Linked DNA regions of Homo sapiens: regions 1, 3 and 4 are each linked to region 2. Evidence: fine-mapped expression QTL. A gene starts in region 2. Each other region holds a variant in brackets. All regions are shown on one strand. Distances are from middle to middle.

What was found. PIP is the estimated chance that this variant, and not a neighbour inherited with it, causes the effect.
Region 1: its variant is the best candidate, but not a certain one, in a credible set for the expression of BCR in whole blood (INTERVAL, PIP 0.72).
Region 3: its variant is the best candidate, but not a certain one, in a credible set for the expression of BCR in whole blood (INTERVAL, PIP 0.62).
Region 4: its variant is the best candidate, but not a certain one, in a credible set for the expression of BCR in monocytes (Fairfax 2014, PIP 0.76).

What each region holds. Positions count from the first base shown.
Region 1 is chr22:23,317,915-23,326,206 of GRCh38, reverse strand. It overlaps BCR (BCR activator of RhoGEF and GTPase), which reads right to left. Exons shown (of 23, transcript NM_004327.4): 23 at 8,170-8,292. It also overlaps the pseudogene POM121L11P and the pseudogene RPS10P30. Among named protein-coding and RNA genes, the nearest start is that of LINC02556, 4.6 kb to the left of the region's middle. The variant C/T (reference allele first, on the strand shown) is at 4,479.
Region 2 is chr22:23,174,293-23,182,577 of GRCh38, reverse strand. It overlaps BCR (BCR activator of RhoGEF and GTPase), which reads right to left and starts at 2,069. Exons shown (of 23, transcript NM_004327.4): 1 at 339-2,069. The coding sequence starts at 1,617. It also overlaps a transcript of RSPH14 not described here and the pseudogene BCRP8. RefSeq lists silencers at 1,539-1,618, 1,639-1,908, 1,979-2,218, 5,623-5,722 and enhancers at 2,339-3,149, 6,110-6,209.
Region 3 is chr22:23,199,048-23,203,047 of GRCh38, reverse strand. The region is part of intron 1 of BCR (BCR activator of RhoGEF and GTPase); the gene reads right to left. Among named protein-coding and RNA genes, the nearest start is that of BCR, 21 kb to the right of the region's middle. RefSeq lists a silencer at 1,531-1,707 and an enhancer at 3,135-4,000. The variant G/C (reference allele first, on the strand shown) is at 1,551.
Region 4 is chr22:23,308,914-23,312,913 of GRCh38, reverse strand. BCR (BCR activator of RhoGEF and GTPase) reads right to left here. Exons shown (of 23, transcript NM_004327.4): 17 at 3,431-3,490; 18 at 2,481-2,590; 19 at 1,078-1,217; 20 at 1-27. It also overlaps the pseudogene POM121L11P. Among named protein-coding and RNA genes, the nearest start is that of LINC02556, 16 kb to the left of the region's middle. The variant C/G (reference allele first, on the strand shown) is at 1,891.

The sequences.
Region 1 (8,292 bases), 140 kb before region 2:
TTCACTCTCGGGGCCGGGCGCTGTGGCTCACGCCTTAAATCCCGGCACTTTGGTAGGCCGAGGCGGGCTGATCACGAGGTCAGGAGATCGAGACCATCCTGGCTAACACGGTCAAACCCCGTCTCTACTAAAAATACAAAAAATTAGCAGGGTGTGGTGGCGGGCGCCTGTAGTCCCAACTACTCCAGAGGCTGAGGCAGGAGAATGGCGTGAACCCGGTAGGCGGAGCTTGCGGTGAGCCGAGATCAGGCCACTGGAATCCAGCCTGGGCGACAGAGGGAGACTCCATCTCAAAAACAAACAAACAAAAAGAAGATATTCACTCTCTTATTTACGGATTTTCTTTATGGAGTTACCAAATTATCCTTTGAAAATTGAGAATTCAGAAGTGGCTGAGAGCAGTCAGTCACTCTTCAGAATGTAAAAACTACTATTCTGAAGTAGATATTACATTATTAATTTCCTTTCAAGATGCTTTAAAAATGAGCCTTTTGATACACCGCAGGTTTTTAAAGAGTATGTCACAATAACTAAATCTTACTTGAAATTAACAGAAGAAGAGCACTATAAATTTTAAAGGCTTCACAGACACAGGGATCATCTGTTATGTTCACTTTGGAACAGATCATAATTGTCCCTCCTCCTCAACATACCCAAAATACGTTGTTTAAGGCTACTTTCTTAATGGTCATGTTATTTCACAGCAAAAGACTGGGGTCACAATGATATCTGAGCTGACAGAAAACCCCATGGGGGTTTTTACCTCGCAGCTAGTCTATTCAGTACTAACAATTCCAACCACCAGAAGGAATTTCCCTGCCTAGGCTTATTTTGTTGGCACAACACAAAAAAATCTCCTGGGGCCGAGTGAGGGGGTTTGTGCCTGTAATCCCAGCACTTTGGGGGTTGAGGCGGGCGGATCATCTGAGGTCGGGAGTTCCAGACCATCCTGACCAACATGGAGAAACACTGTCTCTACTAAAAATACAGAATTAGCCAGGAGTGGTGGCACATGCCTGTAATCCAGCTACCTGGGAGGCTGAGGCAGGAGAATCGCTTGAACCTGGGAGGCAGAGGTTGCGGTGAGCCGAGATCATGCCATTAGACTCCAGCCTGGGCAACAAGAGCGAAACTCTGTCTCAAAATAAAATATCTCCTGACATTTTATATCTAATAAGAAAAGATCTATTTAACAATGATCAGAATAGGAACATCTTTAATACCAGGCAAACTTAAAAGCTTTCTCAGTGGATTTCTCAGTAGACTGTGACAAATGACCTCAAAATAAACTCATATTTACTCTTAAGAAATAATTTGTATTTGAATCTTCTTAACAACAAAAGCCCCAGGAACTTTTTCCTGAACTCCCAAACAATAGCAGCAAAACGAGATTCTCGGCTCTCTTTATTTTTACAAATCACAATAAGATAACTAACCTTGTATTTGCTATTATTTACATTTACTGTATATCACCATTTACTATCACCATCATTTCATAAAAGATGCTTTATTTTAACACCAAGAAAGCAGGACTTTTTTTTTTTTTTTTTAGAAAGGATAGTCCTTTAATCGAACAAATTTAATTGTATAAAAGACTCCCAATATTGTCCTTTTTTTTTCTTATTTCTGTTCCCTTACTGAGCTGAGCAGTTTGCATAATACCACACACAAGTTAGTCATGTGATTTAAATATGTATATGATAGTAATTTTGATACTATCACTTAAGTCATTCGAAATATCAGATGCACTGTGTGTCAAGTCAGTTATAGAGAACCACTGCTTCAGAGAAATCACATCTGAGGAGGAAACACTGCAGATACACCCCCTAAAAGTTCACCTTTGAAACAGAAATTTTGATACAAACTTCACTTTAACTACAACTGTAATTGTAATTATTACAGTTATTCTCCACTCACTAGATACTGTACTTGACACTCACGTTATTTGGTTGGCTACCAACGTGCACCTGTGATAAAGCTTTCCTATGGCACAACATTCACTTTCTTACTGAAAATGTCAAGAAAACCCCTACACACCTGCAACCATTAGGAAGCATTCTCCAGCTATCAAAAAAGTCACTGAATCGGCTAAGCGACTCTGTGTGGTATACACTAAATCAAAGGGGAAAAGGTGTTTTTTTGGAGGAAAAAAATACTGGATCAGCCATTTATTCATAGAAACAATTTTACCCACAACAATACTTCTCCTTTCACTATATACCCTTCTATATTGGTTTGGTTATTGTATAACATACATGTATATTGTTATGGCTGGGGATTTTTTTTTCTTTTTTGAGACGGAGTCTCATTCTGTCGCCCAGGCTGGAGTGCAGTGGCAAGACCTCAGTTCACTGCACCCTCCGCCTCCTAAGTGATTCTCCTGCCTTGGCCTCCCGAGCCTCTGGGATCACAAGCGTGTGCCACCATGCCTGGCTAATTTTTATATTTTTTGTAGAGACCGGGTTTCACCATGTTGTTATTGAACTCCTGACCTCAGGTGATCTGCCCTTCTCGGCCTCCCAAACTACTGAGATTACAGGCGGGAGCCACTGAGCTCGACCTTGTTATGTCTGGTTTTTGTTTTGTTTTTTTGAGATGGAGTCTTGCTCTGTCACCCAGGATGGAGTACAGTGGCACGATCTTGGCTCACTGCAACCTCTGCCTCCCGGGTTCAAGCAATTCTCCTGCCTCACCCACCTCAGTAGCTGGGATTACAGGCACGCGCCAATATGCCCAGCTAATTTTTGTATTTTTAGTAGAGACAGGATTTTACCATGTCGGTCAGGCTGGTCTCAAACTCCTGACTTCAGGTGATCCACCCACCCTGGCCTCCCAAAGTGCCAGGATTACAGGCATGAGCCACCGCGCCCAGCCTAGTTTTTAATTACTAAGAAAAAATTACTATAGTCCTTTTGGTATCACCTACATTGCCAAAGCTGCAGTCCCCCTCCACTCCCGGAAGCCACCAGAAATGACTGCTGTTGTCTGCAAAGCCCACAACTCTGATTTCATCTCAAGATATGTCCTACTGGGTGACTGCAAATGTCATTCTTTAAAGGCTTGTATCTGTTACAAGCTTGGGAAATATTATCAATGGCTTAAGAGGCTCTTTTGACAAAAGAAAACACTGTTCCCTGTAACCCCAGCTAGTCAGGAGGCTGAGGCAGGAGAATCGCTTGAACCCAGGGGGCGGAGGTTGCAGTGAGACGAGATCATGGCCCTGCACTCCAGCCTGGGCGACAGAGTGAGACTCGTCTCAAAAAAAAAAAAAAAAAAAGGAAGAATGTGCCCAACCTTCATGTCATGAAGGCCATGCAGTCTTTCAAGTCCCGAGGCTACTACATGAAGGAACAGTTTGCCTGGAGTCATGTCTGCTGGTACCTTACCAATGAGGATATCCAGTATCTCCGTGATTACCTTCATCTGCCCCTGGAGATTGTGCCTGCCACCCTACGCCGCAGCCGTCCATGGACTGGCAGGCCTCAGTCTAAAGGTCTGGAGGGTGAGCGACCTGCAAGACTCAACGAGAGGGGAAGCCGACAGAGATACCTACAGAGGGAATGCTATGCCCCCTGGTGCCAACAAGAAAGCCGAGGCTGCGGCTGGGTCAGCAACCGAATTCCAGTTTAGAGGCAGATTTGGTCGTGGACGCCGTCAGCCACCTCAGTAAAATTGGAGAAGATTATTTTGCATTGAATAAACTTACAGCCAAAAAGACTTAAAAAAAAAGAAAAAAATTATATTATGTCGCAAATGAACCCGTTGCAATGATCATACAGGTTTTTTCCTTTGATAGTTTGTACTACTTTAATAGTTTTTTCTTTTATTACATCATCTTAGTTTCCTAGGAAAACCCCAACTTGGTCATGATACATGTTTAATCCATTGCTGGATTATTTGCTAATATTTTATTTAGCATTTTTGCATATATGTCCATAAGAAGTTAGTCTATACTTTTGCCTGCTTGTACTATTTATGTCTGGTTTGGTTTTAAGCTTATATTAAATTCACAATGAGTTGGGGAGAATTCCATTTGCTTCTTTTTCTGTAAGGTTATGTAGGCCGGGGTCGTGTGTGGTGGCTTATGTCTGTAATCCCAGCACTTTGGGAGGCCAAGGCGGGCGAATCACGAGGACAGGGGTCGAGACCACCCTGGCTAACACGGTGAAACCCCGTCTCTACTGAAAATACAAAAAATTAGCCAGGTGTGGTGGCGGGCGCCTGTAGTCTCAGCTACTCGGGAGGCTGAGGCAGCAGAATGGCCTGAACTCGGGAGGCGGAGCTTGCAGTGAGCCGAGATCGCGCCACTGCACTCCAGCCTGGACGACAGAGCGAGACTCCGTCTCAAAAAAAAAAAAAAAAATTATGTAGGCCGCGCACTGTGGGTCGTGCTTGTAATCCTAGCACATTGGGAGGCCGAGGCAGGTGGATTACCTGAGGTCAGGTGTCCGAGAACACCCTGGCTAACATGGTGAAAC[C/T]CCGTCTCTACTAAAAATACAAAAGATTAGCCAGGCACACCTGTAATCCTAGCTACTGTGGAGGCTGAGGGAGGAGAACCGCTTGAACCTGGGAGGCGGAGTTTGCGGTGAGCAGAGATCATGCCACTGCACTCCAGTCTGGGCTACAGAGCGAGACTTCCTCTCAAAAATAAATAAATAAATAAATTATTTTAAAAAAATTCTGTAGAAGATAAAGACTTTCTGTTCTTCTTAATGTTTGCTGAACTTATCTATAAAATCATCTGGGCCAGGTGCTTTTCTTTGGTTTTGTTTTTTGTGAGATTTTTGACTGGATGGGATACAGATTTTAAAATAAACATTCAATTCCTTTAATGGTTCTAGATCTAGACAAGGTTTTCTGTTTCTTCCTACTTCGTTTTTATGAAGTTATATTTTTCTTTTGAGCCGGAGTTTCTCTGTTGTCCAGGCTAGACTGCAGTCACCCCATCTTGGCTCACTGCAACCTCCGCCTCCCAGGTTCAAGTGATTCTCCCGCCTCAGGCTCCCGAGTAGCTGGGACTACAGGCAAACGTCAAAACGCCCGGCTAATTTTTGTATTTTTAGTAGAGATGGAGTTTTGCCATATTGGTCAGGCTGGTCTCGAACTCCTGACCTCAGGTGATCGACCTGTCTTAGCCTCCCAAAGTGCTAGGATTACAGGTGTACATTTATTTATTTGAGATGGAATCTTGCTCTGTATTTATTAATTTATTTATTTGAGATGGAGTCTTGCTCCATCGCCCAGGCTAGAGTGCAGTGGTGTAATCTTGGCTCACTGCACCCTCTGCCTTCCAGGTTCAAGCGATTCTCCTGCCTCAGTGTCCCAAGTAGCTGGGATTACAGGTGCCTGCCACCACAGCTGGCTAATTTTTGTATTTTTAGTAGAGACAGTGTTTCACCATCTTGGCCAGGCTCGTCTCGGGCTCCTGACCTCATGAACCACCTGCCTCAGCCTCCCAAAGTGTTGGGATTACAGGCCTAAGGCACATGCTCGGCCGTATTTATTTATTTAATTATTTAGAGACAAAGTCTTGCTCTGTCACCCAGGCTGGAGTGCAGTGGCGCCATCTCAGCTCACTGCAGCCTCCGCCTCCGAGGTTTAAGCGATTCTCATGCCTCAGCCTCCTGAGTAACTGGGACTACAGGTACTCACCACCACGCAGGGATATTTTTTTCTGTTTTTTTGTAGAGACACGGTTTCACCATGTTGGCCAGGCTGGTCTCGAACTCCTGACCTTAGGTGATCTGACAGCCTCGTCCTCTCAAAGTACTGGGATTACAGGCATGAGCCACTGCGCCCGGCCTCTCACTACGTTTAAGTGATGCCATGGCTCATGCCTGTAATCCTAGCACTTTGGGAGGCCAAGGCAGGTGGATCACCTGAGGTCAGGAGTTCGACACGAGCCTGGCCAACATGAGGAAACCCCGTCTCTAGTAAAAATACAAAAATTAGTCAGGCGTGGTGGTACAAGCCTGTAGGCCCAGCTACTTGGAAGGCTGAGGCAGGAGAATCACTTTAACCGGGAGGCAGAGGTTGCAGTGAGCCAATATCATTCCACTGCACTCCAGCTTGGGTGACAGAGTGAGACACCGTCTCAAAAAAAAAAGAAAAAAAGAAAGAAAAAAATGTGATGCCGGGGCATCTCAGCCTCAATACCTGCATGAGCACAGTCATGTCCAGGCCAGGGCTGCTGGTCGAGGTCTGGCCCCATCTCTTCTAGAAGAAAGGGAGTAAGCTTGCAGGGAGGCTGGGGGACAAGATCCCAGGATCTCAGCCTCCGCTCATGGATCAGCTCTGAGACCCTGACTGAGCTGGGGGTGCTCTGTGTGCACTGGTTTCCCCAGCTGTCAAGTAAAGGGATTGGATGAGGAAGTCTTGTCAAGGTGGAATGATCTCAGATTTGGGGCAGCAGTGAATGATCCCGCTCCCTGGGCCCATGCCAGTGGCCTGGCCTCGGCTGAACACAGCCCCAACACTCTGGAATGGGGATGAGGGGGAAGTCAGCTCTTGCTCTTAGTAAGAGAGATGCAATAGGGCTCTGTGGCTGAGCTGGGTGCCTTGCCTCACACCTGTAATCCCAACCTTTGAGAGGCTGAGGCGGGAGGATTGCTTGAGGCTGGGAATTTTGAGAATAGCCTGGACAACATAGCCAGACCCCATGTCTACAAAATAATAAGAAAACACACAGCTATAGTCCAAGCTACTTGGCAGGCTGAGGCAGGAAGGTCCCTTGTGTCCGGGAATTGGAGGCTGCATTGAGCTATAATCGCACCACTGCACTCCAGCTTGGGTGACAAAGTGAGACCCTGTCTCTAAAAGAAAAAAATATCGGCCTGTGAGCATGGGTTTGATCTTCAAACAGGACCCGGAGGGTAGGGACAGACAGTGCTGTCACCCTTAGGTGCTGAACACTCAGAAACGGGCCAGCGGCAGTCCTTTCCTCACCTGCAGACACCAGATTGGGCAGAACAGCACGTGGCACTTGCAGCTCTTGCAGTGAGGGCAGAACCCAGTGTCAACCCTTCTGCCTGTGGGAGGGGCTGCTGAGGCCTGCGGAGAGGCCAGGGTGGAGGCTCGTCCCCTTGTCCAGCCCTTGGCGTGGTCTCCACCAGGTCCCCAGTCCACCAGTGCAGGGCTCCCCTGAGCCTGCTGCTGCCACGGGCCCTGTCTCTACCCAGGACGTCCCCCCACCCTCGCAGTGTCAGGGAAATGATCATGGTGGCGGTGACACTCCGCAGGCAGGGCTGCTGAGAGAAGCTGAGAAGGGTCACACTGCAGGCAGGCGCCCGTGTGACAAGCCCCTCTCACCCCGAGAGAGCTGACCAGGCAGCTCACGAGCAGAGCCACATCCCGGGAGTCCGAGAAAGGTCCTGGCTGGGCTCAGCCACCTCACTGGCCACGGGCAGCCTTTGTCGTGTGAGCCTTGCTCTCCTGGGGAGGCTCAGGCTGACAGCTGTGGGCATTGCCGAGGGTAACCTGTGGCCCAGTGTATATGGCCGGCTCTCCTCAAGCTGCATTCATTCAAGTAGGACCCAGGGTGCATGCCCATCTCCAGCCCAGGGCAGCTCCCCTGTAAGCTGGGTGAGCTACTGAAGCCAAGGCGGGAGGCAGCTGACAACACCCACGGCCCATGCGGAGGTGGTGGAAAGGCTGGACTCAGCAGCAACACCAAATCCCGGACCAGGCAGAAACCACCCAAGACTGAGGGGCTCGTGCCAGAGCGGTGGCCACAGGTAAGAACCCGGGCCCAGGGTGGCAGGAATCCTCCATGTCCCAGGGCTTAGCATAGCAAAGGAAGACCAGCCGGGTCACCCTGGTGGCCATCTGTCCCTGTCCCACCTGCAGAGTCAGAACAGCCTCTCCCCAGTGGGGATCATCTCTCTCTGCCAAAGCAACAGCGGTCCCTGCCCCAACCAGACTACCCCACTCAGTGGGGTTACGGATGCTGCTCCAGCATCCTAACACTGCCCAGCTGGTGCCTGCCTGTGCTCACCCACACCCCCCAGGCCGGCCTTCCCTGCAGCCTGGGCTTGGCCACCTTGGCCTGATTGAGCACTGAGGCCTCCTGGGCACCCAGCCCTATCACTGCACCTGCTGCTTCCAGCCCCACCCCACCGGCTCAGGGGTTCTTCCCAGCGGCGCTGATCATGAAGTCAACATGCACGCAAGTCGTCTCAGGAAACTTTTTAATGAAAGTGTCGGCCACGGTGGTGTGTAGGTGGCTGAGCTCAGATTGCAGCTGCTAAGACACCAGCCACTTACCAAGAGAAAGCCAGGCTGCTTCAAACCCAG
Region 2 (8,285 bases):
GAGCACATAGCAAGGAGGTTACTGCCTGAAGCATCTTCCTTCAACTCACAAGCTGTACTTCACAAACACATTGCTCTAGAACCAAAGGAACAAACCACCTCCCATCCCTCACAAGACCATCCTCAACCCAATTCCATTCCAAACACTAACAGTATGCATTCAGGAAGGAGGAGGGGATGGAGTTTGTTCGGGTGCAGGATCCGCGTGAACCACAAGTGCACCTGATACACTCAAAACTATCCACTCCTCCCTCCCAACTTCTGTTTTGTATCCCCTACTCGTCTATGGTTTTCCTCCCCCGTGCAGGTGTGCCCACGCACGTGGCGTGAGGAACTCACCTGCGTCTCCATGGAAGGCGCCCTCGCCATCGTTGGGCCAGATCTGCCCGGTCTTGCGGACGCCCACGATGGTGGCCTCGGACACGACAACCGGGCAGTGCCGGTGCCGCTTATGGCACTGCGGCGTGGGGGGACTGCTGCTGTCGAAGGACTGTTGCGAGTTCTGCGAGGGAGAGCGGCTTTTGTCCCGGAACATGCGGTAGGTGGTGGGGCTTGGGGACACGCGGCTGGACTGGCCAGAGGAGAAGTCCTCCTCGCTGGAGGTGAGGTTCTCATTGGAGCTGCAGTCCGGGGTATAGCCGCCTCCGCAATCCTCAAAACTCCGGGGGGAGTAGGACCTGCGGGGCCAGGTAAGGCGCTTCTCCTGCTCAGAGGTGCTCTGGCTGCGCAGGAGCGGGCCCTTGCCCTCCCCTTCCATCATGCCCCCGACGTAGATGCTCTGGTAGGGCTGGTACTCCAGGGGCGGCCAAGGGGGCCTGCTACCGCCATTGGCGTCGATCAGGTTGTCCTTCAGGAAGCGGGGGTTCAACTCGGCGTCCTCGTAGTCGCCGTCGACGCCGCAGCTGCTCTCCGAGGAGCGTCCCCGGTAAGGGGGCCTGGATGCATCCCCCACGCTCGAGCCCGCGCCGTGCTGGGACTTTTTGCGCTCCATCTGCATGGCCTGGCTGCCCAGGGAGCTGATGCGGTCCGACACCTCTTTGTCGTTGACCTTCACCAGGCCGCGCTCGTGGTGAAACTCGACGTTCACGTAGAAGGGCTTCTCGGCGTCCGCCCCGGGCTGGCCATGGCCCTTGCGGATCCGCTCGAAGTTGGACCTGAGCGCCGCCACGCTGGCGGGGGGTCCCCGGTCGTCCCGTTCCCCCGACGCGGCTGCCCCGGGCCTGCGGGCGGTCCCGGGCCTGGCCTTACCCGGAGAACCCTCGCCGTCGGGCCGGGCCTCGGGCTCCTCGGCGGGCGGCGGGTCGGCTCCGTCGGCGGGCGCTGGCTGCGGGCGCGACGCGGACGCTCGGGGCTCGGAGGCGCCGTCGGGGGCCTGCGCCGCGCGCCGGAAGCCCCATCGCTGCCGGTCATAGCTCTTCTTTTCCTTGGCCAGCAACGTCTGCAGGTAGATCATGCGGAAGCGCTCCTGGTTCACCTCCTGCTCCAGGCGCCGAATGGAGGCCTTGCAGCGCTCCAGCTCCTGCTCGATGTCGCCCACTGAGCGCAGCTCCATGCGCGGGGGCTCTGAGTCCGGGAACTGCGCCTTCCACGCCTCCGCGAAGCCCACCGGGTCCACCATGGCGCGGCCGGCCTTACCTGCGCCGCCGGGCTGCGCGCGGGGCCCGTCTCAGCGGCGGCGCGGCGCCTCGCCAGCCCGGCCCCGGGCGCCGGGCGGCCCCCATGGCCCGCGCGGCGGCGGCGGCGGCGAACAATGCCCGCCCACTCCCTGGTGGCAGGTGAGGCGGAGCGGGGCGCTCGGCGCGCGGGGCGGGGCGCGCCGGGGGGAAGGGCGCGGGCTGCGCGCGCCGCTATTGTGTGCGGGGCTCCTCCGCACGGCGAGGCGCGGGCGCTGCTCTCCGCTCCGCCAGGCCGCCGCCAGACTCTGGCCACGGCCCGCGCGCTCCTCGCCTCTCGCTTCCGCACCGCCCCACAGCCCCGCCGCCGCCGTGCCGCCGCCGCCGCCGCCGCCTCCTCGGACGCTAAGCTCAGCCAGCCGGCTCTCGCCGCACTCCCGCCCGGCCCGCACTCTGCGCCGCAGGAAGGGGAGGGCCGGGGGGAGGTGGCCGCGGCGCGGATGACGGAGCCAGGCGGGCCTCTTAAAGGGGCCGCGCCGTGGGCACAGGGCGGGGGGGCCCCCTGGAGGCGGCTCCCCCATCGAGCCGCCACCCTCCCCCCGTCCCTGTGCCTTTTGGGAAACTGAGGCCCTAACAACAGCGAATTGGACTGTGCAACTCGCAGCCCAGGGGTCCCCCGTAAAAAAGACACCGGACTCCCTGGTCCATAAAGACCTTTCCAATACAGAGGTCTGGGCCAGTTCTGCAGTCCTGGAACAGGAACACTTGGCTCCCCTCCGGCCAGGAGGACTTCTCCGGCCAGTCCAGCCGCGTGTCCCCAAGCCCCACCACCTACCTCATGTTCCGGGACAAGAGCTGCTCTCTCTGGCAGAACTCGCAGCAGTCCTCCGACAGAAGCAACCTCCCCCCTCTGCCCCTACCACGCCGCAGTGCCATAAGCGTCACCGGCACTGCCCAGTCGTCGTGTCAGAGGCCACCATCGTGGGCATCTGCAAGACCAGGCAGATCTGGCCCAACGATGCGGAGGGCACCTTCCATGGAGACGCAGGTAAGTTCCTCACACCTCACAGCCTGGCCTCTCACCAGCCTCAGGGCTGGGCACACTAGGGACCACCCAGCAGGGCCCAACTCACAGAGAGGCCAGGACCAGGCAGGTCACCCCGCAAGGCAGGGAGGGCCAGGCTGAGTAACCAATGCCAGCACCCTTGTTTCAGCGGGCCTCTCACGTTGTGGATCTGCTGTGGGTGGCTGCCACACGGGTTTGTCACAGCAGGACCACATGATGGATGATAAATAGGGATTTCTCCCTCAGGTCACTCAATACCCACACCTGCCTTCCTGTGTGCTGAGCCATGTGTTTGTCCCCTGGCCTCTCTTGAGCTCCAGAGGTCAATGTAGTTTTTCCAGGACGACCTGACTCAGAACTTCCCTGATTAGCCTCCCTCTAAGGGGGCGGCCAACCTGCACTGAGGTTCACAGGGCTGGGTGGAAGACAGCCCAGAGCAGGGAGTGAAACAAAACCTTTGATGGTTCTCTGGGGACACAGAGATCTGAGACACAGTGGAGAGCACTCTGCAGGGACTCTGATGGGCACAAACTGAAAATACCCAAACCAGCCCGCTGGGTTGGGGGAAAAGGAAACAGGATTTGGCAAATGAATTACTGGGCTTGAGTCCTGACCACCTCTCCCTCTCTGCCTCAGTTTCCTTGAAGTGAGAAGCACATCTGCCTCCAAGTGCTGTTGTCCCTGTGTGGATGTTAGGGATTATCATGCCCTCCTCCCAATGCCAGCGTCATCTGGAGCAGATACTTTGAAGTCCAATCTAAAGGACTGAGCCCAGGCTAGTAGCCAGGCCAGCCCTGCTTGGGTTCAGGGCTTCCTGCCGACTCCTGGCTGTGTGACCTCAGCAGTGTCTCTCTCAGCCTCTCTGAGCCTCAGTTTTGTCATCTGTTCTTCATGTGCCCAATCCTGCTTCCTTTTCCCCTGACCCGGCAGGCTGGTTTGGGTATTTTAATTTTGTGCTCATCAGACTCCCTGCTCTTTGCCCTGTCTCAGATTTCCAGGCTTCCCTAGAGAACCATCAAAGATTTTGTTTCACTCCCTGCTCTGAGCTGTCCTGTCTTCCACCCAGTCCTGTGGGCCACGGTACAAAATGTTGAGAGCATCCTGCATAAAATGCCCAGATGGGGCAAACATAAAACACAACCTGATAAATGGTGTGTAGGGGTCGATTTCGTGATTGCCTGTTAATATTAGTGCCCCTGGAGAACATTCCTGCCCTGGAAAACCCATGGGCCCCAGTTTCTAGGCTGGGTGGGCGGTGCGCAGCTCACTGCTGCCCTCTGCAGGCCTTGCTAACCTCCTGCCATCCTGGTCCCTTGGACCCAGCGGACCTTCTCATCCCCTTCCCATCAGGCTGCAAATAGCCCATTTTGCATGTGAGGAAACTGAGATGCAAATGATGCCCTGGCCACTAAAGGGGCTGGAATCCCAGTAGTGCCATACTGAGCAGTGCTCTCATCCTCAGTGGCCTATTTTTTTTTTTTTTTGAGACGGAGTCTCACACTGTTGCCCAGGCTGGAGTGCAGTGGAGTGATCTCTGCTCACCGCAACCTCTGCCTCCTGGGTTCAAGTGATTCTGCTGCCTCAGCCTCCCAAGTAGCTGGAATTACAGGCGCCTGCCATCACGCCCAGCTAGTTTTTTGTATTTTTAGTAGAGACGGGGTTTCACTGTGTTGGCCAGGCTGGTCTTGAACTCCTGACCTCGTGATCTGCCCGCCTTGGCCTCCTGTAGTGCTGGAATTACAGGTGTGAGCCACTGCACCCAGCCCTCAATGGCCTCTTCTTTAAAATGGGTATGATAAAGGCAGGCACAGTGGCCCATGCCTGTAATCCTGGTGTTTTGGGAGGCCGAGGCAGGAGTATCGCTTGAGCCCAGGAGTTCAAGACCAGCCTGGGCAACATAGTGAGACTCCATCTCTACAAAAAAATTTAAAAATTAGCCTGGCATGGTGCCTCGTGCCTGTAGTTCTACCTGCTCAGGAGGCTGGGGTGGGAGGATTGCACTGAGCCTGGGAATTTGAGGCTTCAGTGAGCTAGGATCACGCCACTGCACTCCAGCCTGGGTAACAGAGCAAGACCCTGTCTCTAAGTAAACTCTGAAGCTGTTTAGTTTGAGTTTGCATGCTCTGTTCTCTTGGCATAGCAAATGGCTTTTTGTTAGGCACAAGGACACGTCCAGATAGTGGCTTTCTCCCTTGTGGGACAGCCTCTTCTGGCCCCAAGGACACTGTTCTCTCCTCAGGACTTCCCTGAAAGCACCCCTATCCTGAGCCTCTGGGCCTTTCCTGTAGAGTTTTCTTATCATCCATCCCTCCCTAGGGAGGAATGCAGCAGGGCATGGGCATGGGCATGGGGTTTAGACACACATAACACTCTGTAATCCCCCACTCAGTGTCTGTTCCAACTAGATCTAAACTCTGCAAGGTCACAGACCTGTTTGTCTTGTTCCCCTATGTCTCTCATATAGTGAGCTCAGAGTAAGTGCTCAACCAGGTCTGGTGGAATGAGGAACCAGATGTGTGCATGGCCTGGAGGGCAGATAGGTCACCGAGAGCGATGCCTGTGTATGGGGGAGGAAGTGATAAGGCATTCACAGCCCGGCTATAGCAAAGGTGTGTGTGTCCTGTGGGAGAAGGCACAGTTCGGGGAAAGGCTTGCCAGGGGAGGTGATGCCTGAGCTGGTCCTAAGGACAAGGACCAGGTAGGCAAAGGACAAGGAGGCTTCAAAGTTCTGTTTGAGGAGCAGCCAGGTTGGGAGATGAGGCTGGTGTAGGCAGTAGGAAGTGGGATCAGAGGTGAGGCAGGGCCTTGTAGGCCTGCACAAAGTTTGGGTTTTATTCTAAATGCAAGGAAAAGCTGCTCAAAGGTTCTAGACCTGCACTGTCCGATAGAACTTGCCAGTACCATGGGCATGTTCTGTAATCTGTGCTGCACAATGTGGCAGCCACGAGCTGCCCCGTGTGATTACTGAGCATCTGAAACGTGGCTGGGGCAGCTGAAGAACTGAATGTTTGGTTTCGTGTTAGTGAGTTTCAATGGCCACCGTGGCTGCTGTACTCAACCGCACAGGAAGCGGGGTGACTTGCTGGGGTCTGTTGCATGGAAGGTTGGGCGTGGGAGGTGGGAGTAGGGGGAGTGGTTGGGGATTGTGGCAATTGTTTATGAGGAAGGCATTGGTGACCCAGAATAGGGCAGAAGCAAGGTACCCCAGAGAAGGGGTTAGAATTCAGGAGCATTCTGGAAGTAAAACTCATGGGACTTGTAGATGGAGTGGGTGTGGGGAATGAGGGATGTTGGGGTGATCAGACCCAACACCAGGCCGTGGGGGCGACAAAGTCTGGCGGAGTCAAAGGAGTGAGAAAAGGCAAGAGAGAAAGTGGGACCAGGGGGCCAACGCTAGTATAGAGGCTGCAAAGGCCTCTAGCCCTAGGAGCCTATGCTATTTATTGGTGATCAAACAAAGAAACAGGTGGTGAGGATGTGGGGATTGAAAGGAAGCGGTGTATCAAGCAAATGAGCTACAGCTGTGACAGTTTAGCATTTTCTTTGAAACATATGGCTACTTGAGATAATGAGAGTGCTAGAAGGAAGGAGCCAGCAAGTCTAGCAGACATGCAAGCCCTGCCTCAGCTTCTCTCCCCACACCCAGCTTTTCCCCAACAGAGGGAGGCCAGCTCATGGGGATGACTTTGGGATGGTGACTGCAACAGGCAAGCAGAGGTGCCTGCACAGGGCTTCAGGTCCGCATAGCCCATCCATGAGCAGGCATCAGGCAGAGGGTGACCCTGTTGCACCAAGGAGCAATGAAGACCTCAGAGAGAAAGTGGAGTGTTGCCAGTGAATCGATGTTGTTTGTTGCCACGGGGCTGGAGACTCTCCCCCTGCCTGCGTGAGGCTGGGTGGAGAAGGGACAGTTACTGGACTAGGGGGGAAGTAGAGGCAGAGGGACTGAGAAGGGACTGGCCAGGGAGATGATGGGGACCCTGGAGTCTGAGCGGAGAAGACTCAGTGAAGAAGGCAGAGCCTCATGCTGATAGCTGCTGTTCCCTCAGTGGGAAGGATGCTAGCTGAGTCTGGCATCATGAGGCCGGCAGGGCAGAGGTGGGCCCTGGAACTTGGCTGCAGAAGCTGGAGGCTGGATGGGCCCTGAGCGCTACCCCAGGAGCCTTCTGAGGGGTTCAGCAGGAGGAGGGGGCTTCACCAAGGGCTCCACAGCTGTCTATGAGCAGTGGGTGACATTTATTTTCTAAATCATCATGCTTTTCTAAATTCTTCATAATAAAACGCCTATCTATGGCTCACGCCTGTAATCCCAGCACTTTGGGAGGCTAGGCGGGCGGGTCACTTGAGGTCAGGAGTTTAAGATCAGACTGGCCAATATGGTGAAACCCTGTCTCTACCAAAAATATAAAAATTAGCTGGGCATGGTGACTCCAGAGGCGGAGGCTGGAGAATTGCTTGGATCCAGTAGGCGGAGGTTGCAGTGAGGGGAGATTACGCCACTGCACTCCAGCCTGGGTGATGGAGTGAGACTCTGTCTCAAGAAAAAACAAACAAACAAGCCAACCCACCTATCTTTTGTAATTTAAAAAAAAATAGATTTTTTGCCAAGTGCCGTGGCTGACGCCTGTAATCCCAGCACTTTGGGAGGCCGAGGCGGGCAGATCATGAGGTCAGGATATCGAGACCATTCTGGCTAACACGGTGAAACCCCGACTCTACTAAAAATACAAAAACAAATTAGCCGGGTGTGGTGGTGGGCGTCTGTAGTCCCAGCTACTCGGAGGCTGAGGCAGGAGAATGGCGTGAACCCAGGAGGCGGAGCTTGTAGTGAGCCAAGATTGCGTCACTGCACTCCAGCCTGGGTGACAGAGCGAGACTCTGTCTGAAAAAAAAAAAAAATTTTTTTTTTACAATCTTTTTTTCTTTTTTTTTGAGACGGAGTTTTGCTCTTGTTGCCCAGGCTGCAGTGCAATGGCGTGATCTCAGCTCACCACAACCTCCGCTTCCCGGTTCAAGCAATTCTCCTGCCTCAGCCTCCCGAGTAGCTGGGATTACAGGCATGCACCACCATTCCTGGCTAATTTTGTATTTTTAGTAGAAACGGGGTTTCTCCATGTTGGTCAGGCTGGTTGCGAACTCCCAACCTCAGGGGATCCACCTGCCTCAGCCTCCCAAAGTACTGGGATTACAGGCGTGAGCCACCACACTCAGCTTTTTTTTTTTTTACAACTTTATTGAAGTATAATTGAAGTGTCATAAACTGCGCATAAGGAGTGCGATTTGATGAGTGTTGACATCTGTGTATACTTTGAAGCCATCGCCACAATTAGATAACAAGTATTTCCAGCATCCCCAATCCATATTATGTTTTTAAATCTCGAAACTAAAATATAACAGAGAAGTGGGGTTTTTGGTGATGTTCCCCCTCAATTTCCCTTGTTCTCTGAGTGTGGTTACATGATTCTATTATTTATTTATTTACTTATATATTTTTTGAGATGGGGGTCTCGCTCTGTGACCCATGCTGGAGTGCATTATTGCAATCCTAGCTCACTGCAGCCTTAGACGCCTGGGCTTAAGTGATCCTCCTAACTCAGCTCCCCGAAG
Region 3 (4,000 bases), 23 kb before region 2:
TCTCTACAAAAAGAAAAAAAACGACAGATGAGTGTAGTGATGTGCATCTGTAGTCCCAGCTACTCAGGAGGCTGAGGTGGGAGGATCACAGGAGGTCAAGGCTGCAGTGAGCTCTTACTGCACCAGTGCAGATGCAGAGTGAGATGGCAGAGCGAGATCCTGTTTCAAAAACAAACAAAAAAAAAACCCCACAAAAAAATTCACTGAATGTAATTAATGCCACTGAACTGTACATTTAAAAATGGTTAAAATGACCCAAGTGCCCATCAATGAATGATAGATTAAATATATATATATATACACACACACACACACACACACACACAAACAATTGAATTATTACTCAAGCTTAAAAAGGAAGGGGTTCTGAAACACAGTAAAACACAGATGAACTTTGAGGACATGATGTGAAATAAGTCACAAAAAGACAAATACTGCATGATTCCACTTAAATAAAGTTTCTAGAGTCGTCAGATTCCTAGAGATAGAAAGTAGAATGGTGGTTACAGGGACTGGGCGTGGGGGAAGAAGCACTGTTCTTTAATGGGTGGAAATGAGTACAGATTTTCAGTTTTGCAAGGTGGAAAGAGTTCTGGAGATGGATGATAGTGATGGGTGCATGACAGGAATATACTTAACACCATTTAGCTGTGCGGCTAAAAATGGTAAATTTTATGTTATTTTACCATAATTTTAATTTTTAGTGGTTAAAATGTCAAATTTGTATATATATTTCACCATAATTTTTAAAAAGTAATAATGTAATATACCAAAACCCATTAAATTGGCTGCTTTAAAGGGTTGAATTGTATGGTACATGAATTACCTCAGTGAAGCTATTTAAAAAAAGAGAGAGAAGTTCACTGAAACATTATACTAACCAGCTGCATAAAGAACCACTCGAAATGTCCAACAAAAATTCATTAAAATTAGATAAATTAAACCATAACTCCACTACAAAGTAATAATATGGCCCTTAAAAATAATATTTACACAAGATTTACTAATACATGGAAACGTTCACATTAACTAAGGCCGGACACCCAACTACACAGCAACATCTTAACTATATAAAAAAGATTTACACATAATTATCTCAAAAGTTGGCAAGAAAATTAAACCTTCCTCATACTGCACAGGAACCTTCCCCATGACTCTTCATCTGCTCCCCTCTTGAGATGCCAGCCTTTCAAAACCTGCAGCCAATGTCCACGGACTCCCAGAAACCGAAGGGTCTGAACCCTGAGGGCTAGAGTCAAGTCACCCAGGGAGCTTTTCAAAAAACCCAGACTTGGCCGGGCGCGGTGGCTCACACCTGTAATCCCAGCACTTTGGGAGGCCGAGGAGGGCGGATCACAAGGTCAGGAGATCGAGACCATCCTGGCTAACATGGTGAAACCACCTCTACTAAAAATACAAAAAATTAGCCGGGCATGGTGGTGGGTGCCTGTAGTCCCAGCTACTCAGGAGGCGGAGGCAGGAGAATGGCATGAACCCAGGAGGCGGAGCTTGCAGTGAGCCAAGATCGCCCCACTGCACTCCAGCCTGGG[G/C]AACAGAGCAAGACTCCGTCTCAAAAACGAAAAAACAAAAAAACCAGATTCACTGAGAAGAGAAAAGCAAACAGCTGTGTGTGAACTGCCTATGAACAGGGTGGGCTCTAGAAGGGGCCTCCAGCCAATGCCAGCAAGGAAATGGGGACTCAGTCCTACAACTGCCAGGAGGTAAGCACTGCCAGCAACCCAGGTGAGCTTAGAAGAGAACCCCAAGCCCCAGCAGGGAATGCAGCCCCGGCCAACACCTCAACTGCAGCCTGAGGAGACCCCAAGCAGAGGAGCCAGCTCTGCTGTGCCCAGAAACTGTGACATCAAAAAACAAACTCATTAATCAGACCAGCTGCGCACGTGTGTGACTTTTTAACTACATGGGCAGCCAGAGTAGGGACCTGCTGCCCTTGGCCTCTGCCAGACTAAATGTTCCATTTCCTGTAACCACTCTGTTCTTTGGGCTTAGCAGCACCAAGCACTAGGAGACTACGGCTTCTCAGGCCTAGACCCGTCCACCAGCACCAGGCAAAACTTGGGCTCCTAATGTACCAGCCTGCTGACTGGCAGAAGTCCTGGTGAAGTGAAAACATCCCCAACCTTTTTTCCAAATGAACAGCCCAGCCCAGCCTTTGAAAAGCCCCCTTGGCCAGGCATGGTGGCTCATGCCTGGAGTCCCAGCACTTTGGGAGGCCAAGGCGGGTGGATCGCTTGAGCCCAGGAGTTTGAGACTGGCACGGGCAACATGAAGACACCTCATCTCTACAAAAAAATACAAAAATTAGCTGGGCATGGTGGCATGTGCCTGCCGTCCCAGCTACTCAGAAGGCTGAGGTGGGAGAATCGCCTGAGCCTGGAGAGGTCAAGGCTGCGGTGAGCCATGATCGCACCACTGCACTCCAGCCTGGGCGACAGAGTGAGACCTTGTTTCAAAAAAAATTTTTTTTTAATTAAAAAAAAGTTAAAGTCCTCTTGTAGCCTGGGCAACATAGTGAAACCTTGTCTCTACAAAAAATTTAAAAATTACCTGGGGGGATGGTGGTGCATGCCTGTAGTCCCAGCTACTTGAGATGCTGAGATGAGGGGACTGTTTGAGCCCAGGAGGTTGAGGCTGCAGTGAGTTGTGAGTGTGCCACTGCACCAGCCTGGGCAGCGGAGTAAGACCCTGTCTCTAAATAAATAAATAAAAAGCCCGCTTTGAGCTTCAAACCAAAACAGCTCTGAAAAAAGTGCAGTCAGGGACAGACCACCAGACCTAAGCCACCGGCTCTGGTCCACCCTGGATGTCTGAGCCCACACGGTGACATCTACATATCTGAGGATGTTCCCTAGGAGGAAGTCCTGCTCCAGCCTTTGATGTCCAAGGTCTCGTCAGTATCATGCCCTGTCATATGCCTTGTCTTGCTTTTTTTTTTTTTTTGAGACGCAGTCTTGCTCTGTCACCCAGGCTGGAGTGCAGTGGTGGATCTTGGCTCACTGCAAGCTCTGCCTCCCGAGTTCATGCCATTCTCATGCCTCAGCCTCCTGAGTGGCTGGGACTACAGGCGCCCGCCACCACGCCCGGCTAATTTTTTTTTTGTATTTTTAGTAGAGACGGGGTTTCACTGTGTTAGCCAGGATGGTCTCTTGACCTCATGATCTGCCCGCCTTGGCCTCCCAAAGTGCTGGGATTACAGGCGTGAGCCATCGCGCCTGGCCCCGCCTTGTCTTAAAATTCAATAAAGTGACCCTCCTCCCTTGGGAATGACTCCAATTAATTCACAGACTTGAAAGCAGGGAGAAAGGAGAGACAAAGAAGAAAACATCCATTTTCCCCTCTCCTTTCAGATCTATCCCCTGCACTCATGGGGACAAAGGAGACAGGGCACCCCAGTCCTACCAATACCTTCCCCTGCATCCCAACAGCTGACTGCAATAGTTTCCACCCATGGTATTAGGCGGCAGACCCCTAGCTGGCTTTCTGGGGGCGCAGCTGCCCAGCCCAAAGCAGCAGACGCTTCCACAAGAAGCCTCAAGCTTCCTGAGGAGTGAAAACAAAGCACCTCTCCCAGCCCGCCAGCCCATCCCCATCAACCTTCCCAGACTTCCTTGCCAGAGTTTCTGGAACCTGAGACTGTGGCCTTAGCAGGATAAATAAGCAACCGCGGGGCTCACAAGGGCCGGGGAAGCCAGGAGATGACACAGGCATGGCGGGACCCAGTCTCCGATGCTTCCTCAGACATTCCTTTCTAGAGCCTTCCTGGCTCTTGCACAGAGAAGAGAAGAGTCTTCTGGAGCCACTCACACCATCTGGCCACTAAAGAAATGCCATGAGAGAGGAAACCAGACTTATGTTAATAATCACAACCTGCATTTGTTAGGGCCAAATTCTTTTTTTTTTTTTTGAGACGGAGTTTCGTTCTTGTCGCCTTGGCTGGCGTGCAATGGTGTGATCTTGGCTTACTGCAACCTCTGCCTCC
Region 4 (4,000 bases), 130 kb before region 2:
TCATCATCACCGACACGTCCTTGTTATCTGGAAAGAGCACGGAAATGCAGCGGCCTCCTTGAGGATCCCGAGTGAGTCTCCCACCATCCCTGCCTTGGCTAAAGCACTGTCCCTGCCATGCTGACCACTGTGCGGGTCCCTCCTGGGCTTTGAGCAGCTCATCTGACTCCTCCCAAGAGCTGTGCATGGTTCTGTGTCTGCAGAGTTGATAGGGGTGCGTGGGCATTCCCATTCCTCTCCCCTGCTTGGCCTGATGTGATGGCCAGGAGGAGGCCAGCGTGGCAGGACACAGCGCCTGCGTGGGGATTGGGTGGCTCTGCCCTGTACATAGCAACCACCCCTGCACCAGTGTCGTCTGATAGCAGGAAGGCCGTGGGAGAATCTGATTGGTTTCAGTGTTTGAACCGGTGTCTTCCTTTGGACCCAATTGGCCATTGGTGCTTACATCCTCACCACAGGCCAGGTTCATTCTGGGCCCCCAGAGGGAGCTGAAACTACCACAGGGCCCTCCCAGGGATGCTGGGCATTCTAGGGGTCCTGGTCAGGGTTGGTGGTGTGTGCCCCAAAGAAGGGTCTGCAGGCACAAAATCCTGTTGAAGATGCTGGGAGGGACCCTCTGGGGTCTCAGTGCCCTCCCCTGGCATTTGTGACAGTTCCAGGTCCTTCATAGCCTGTGAGGGTTGGTGAGATGGAGGCAGAGATGCTGCAGCCCCAGCCTGGGCTGAATTTCATCAGTGCCCTCTGCCTGCCGCATCCTCACACATGGCAGGGGACAGACTGCACTGAGTCCTGGGCTTCCACCTCCTGTCCAACCCCAAGGCAGGAAGGCCAAGGCCCTGCAGAAACCCCTGGCCTACCCCAGCAAGTGGCATGCATGGCTAGGATGGTTTAAAAACTGGTTTCTACAGAGGCTTTTTCTACAACTCTTGTCTTCTCTTTTTTAAAAATAATAACACAGTAAATGAAGAAAAGACACAGAGAAGGATGTGACATGCCTGGGCCATGGAGCACTCTGAGATCTCATCGCGGACACCATTGCCCACACCTCCATCCCGTCCTGCGCAGGCCAACACTCACTGACGTCGAAGGCTGCCTTCAGTGCCTGGATGTCCGTGGCCACACCGGACACGCGGTAGATGCCCACCTCCTCCATGCCTCGGCGCTCGATCTCCTCCACGCACTGGCGCACGATGTAGGGCACCTTGGACCTCTCTCTCCTGCGGGAGGAGGGAATGTTCTCAGTGTCCTAACAGCCCTGCTTGGGCCATAACACAGGAGACCTGCTCCATATCTGCACACCCGGAGGTGGGGTGAGGACGGTGACGAAGGTACCCAGGTCTGGGGCTGCACACAGAGCCTTCTGCATGCCTGTCCTCCCTCTGCAAGCTCTGTCCTCATGGCATGTACTTTCTCAGGAACCTTTCAAGCGGCCAGAACCCCTGCGAATCACACATGACCTTTGCGGGAAGGTCAGGAGGCCTGTCTATGTCAAGTCAGCACGGGAAGGGCATCTGACAGATTCCAGGCCTGGGGTTAGCAGCCTGTACCCCCGGCTGGGAGGTCAGACCCGGTGTTGGTCCTGCCACCCACGTGCTGTGTGAGAGGAGAATCCCTGACCCCTGCCCTGGGCCTGGGCCTTAACACACATCCGACGAATGAATGAAGGGTTGCCTCAGCACCGGTGCTCCAAGTCCTGCGATGCTAAGTGCTTTTCTCCTCTGAGTCTTAGCAATGGACAATTCCAATACCTCCACACAGGACACTAGAGTAAGAATCCTTCACAGTTAGAACGCAGTGCTGTGCGGAGGCCTTAACTTGAGTTCTGTTTTGCACCTGGATTTACCAGCACATCAAAGCTGCTTCGCAAGCCCCCTCATTAGCAGGGCTTAT[C/G]TGGGGGAGCTGCTGATGGAGTCCTCGCTGCTCATGCCCACAGCCCTCCCAGAGTGCTATGCGAGTGGCTGCCGTGCAGTTGGGGGTGGGGCGTGGTGTTTAGACACAGATAGGAGTCCAGGGTATGACTGATGGAGGCCCCGGCCCACGTGACCAGCAAGGTCAGAGGCCCAGCCAGATTCCATCCTGGGGAAGCAAATGAATTCTCAGAGGAAGTGGTCTATGTCTGCATGAACTGCTCTCAAACCAAACAGGCTTCTCTTGGCAACTGACTCGTGACAAAGGGGCAGGGGTTACGGCCATTCAACAGGAATCTGGGACCGTGATAAATTCCAAGCAAGGGCAGAAAACCCTGCACTTGGGCAGTTCCTGGAGCCAGCCTACTGCTTCCAAGCCAGGTGGCAAGGACATTCCTGAGCTGGTTTGCAGGAAACACAGGAGGTAGCTGAAGACGCCGTGTTCCCTGGGGCCTGACCTCACCGTGCAGTGGCCACGCACAGAGAGGAGAGACCCACACATGCTCTTTTCTGCAGAAACAGCTGAAGGGACAGGCACCCTCAGTGCGTGAGCCCAAGCCCCTCCCCACTCACTTGGTGACCACAGCAATCTTGACTCCGAAGACCCCTGTCTGTTTTCGGGACGGCATCCTCTTCAAGCTGAACTCCCTGCTGTTGAACTTGACCGAGAGCTTTACTTCGATCTACAGTAGGGAGAAGGGGCACAGTCCTCTAATCCTTCTGGTCCTCATAGCCCAAGGTCCCAAGGACCCCTGGGAGTCTCATCAAATATTTCCACCCCCAAGGCATGCAGAGGTCTCAGCATGAGGTGGAGCCGCCCCTCGGGGAAGCCCCTAGTCTACTTCAGCAAGAGCCAGGATTGTTGAAGATGATGTAAACGACTGGTTTCTGCAGAAGCACCTCCTAAAATCCCCGCTGCTTCTCTTGCTTGCTTGCTTTTTTTTAGATATAGGAGCTTGCAATGTTGCCCAGGCTGTAATCGAACTCTTGGGTTCCAGTGATTCTCCTGCCTCAGACTCCAGAGTAGCTGAGACTATAGGTGCACTGTGCCTGGCTTTCTCTTTCTTAGTAACAATTAAAAATTAAGTAGGAAAGACAGAATAATGTAAGAAAAAGCCAAGAATCTCAAATATTAACATTTTACCATTTATACCCGGGCCTTTTTGGGTGTGTCATTGCTTTTAAGGTCTAAACCTTTCTGGGGTACCTAAAGACAAATCAGGGGTCTCCATTTCTATGGGCAGCCCCCAGGTCCCTGAGTGGAGGCCCCACCTGTCCTGGTGGTGCCATGAGACCTTTGTTTGAGGAGGGATGCTCAGGGCCTGGCTGGCAACTGCATTCCAGCCAATGAATGACGATTCCCGTGCATGGTGATTCTGCTCTTGGGGGCCCTCCCTTCTCCAACCAGGCTCCCTCTCAGATGCTGCCTCAGGCTCAGCCACCTCTGACTGATTTGAAATGAACAGAGGCCACCCTATCCTTCTGGGGGAAGTGGGCACCAGGAGAGTCCCACGGACACGTACCCCATTCATGGCGATGACGGTGCGCTGCCAGTCTCTGTCCTGCAGGGCCTGCGGGTCCAGCTGAAAGGAAGGAGTCATGATTGGCAGAGGCCCTGGGGTCTGTTCAGAGGCCCCACGGGGCAGCAGCCCACACCCGCCACTTCCCCAACCCTTAGTCAGAGGCAGAGCCCGACTGCGGCCAGCACCTCCATCCAGAGGCCAACAGAGGTAGAGTAAGGAGGGGCCTGCCAGACACCCCTGGAACCCAGGGCCCCACTGCTCCCAGAGCCCTGCTGCCTGGGGTCCCCACCCCCTCCTCCCTCTGCCCCGCCCAGTTGGGAGCTGATGTGCAGGCTGGCAGGCTCTCTCCATCCGGCTTCCATCACCACGGGTGCTATGTGGAGCTCAGTGAAAGGTGAGCTGTCCAGCAGCAACTTCAGTAACAACTCCTGGGGGCCTGGCATCCACAGCTGCTGTCTGGGGAATTGTGGACACTGTTCTCCCCCTGCACCATGAACAGCTTGTGGCGGGAGGAGCCTGCAGGCCACACCAGTCCCATGGTTCAGAATCAGGCCCAGAAGGACCCAGAAA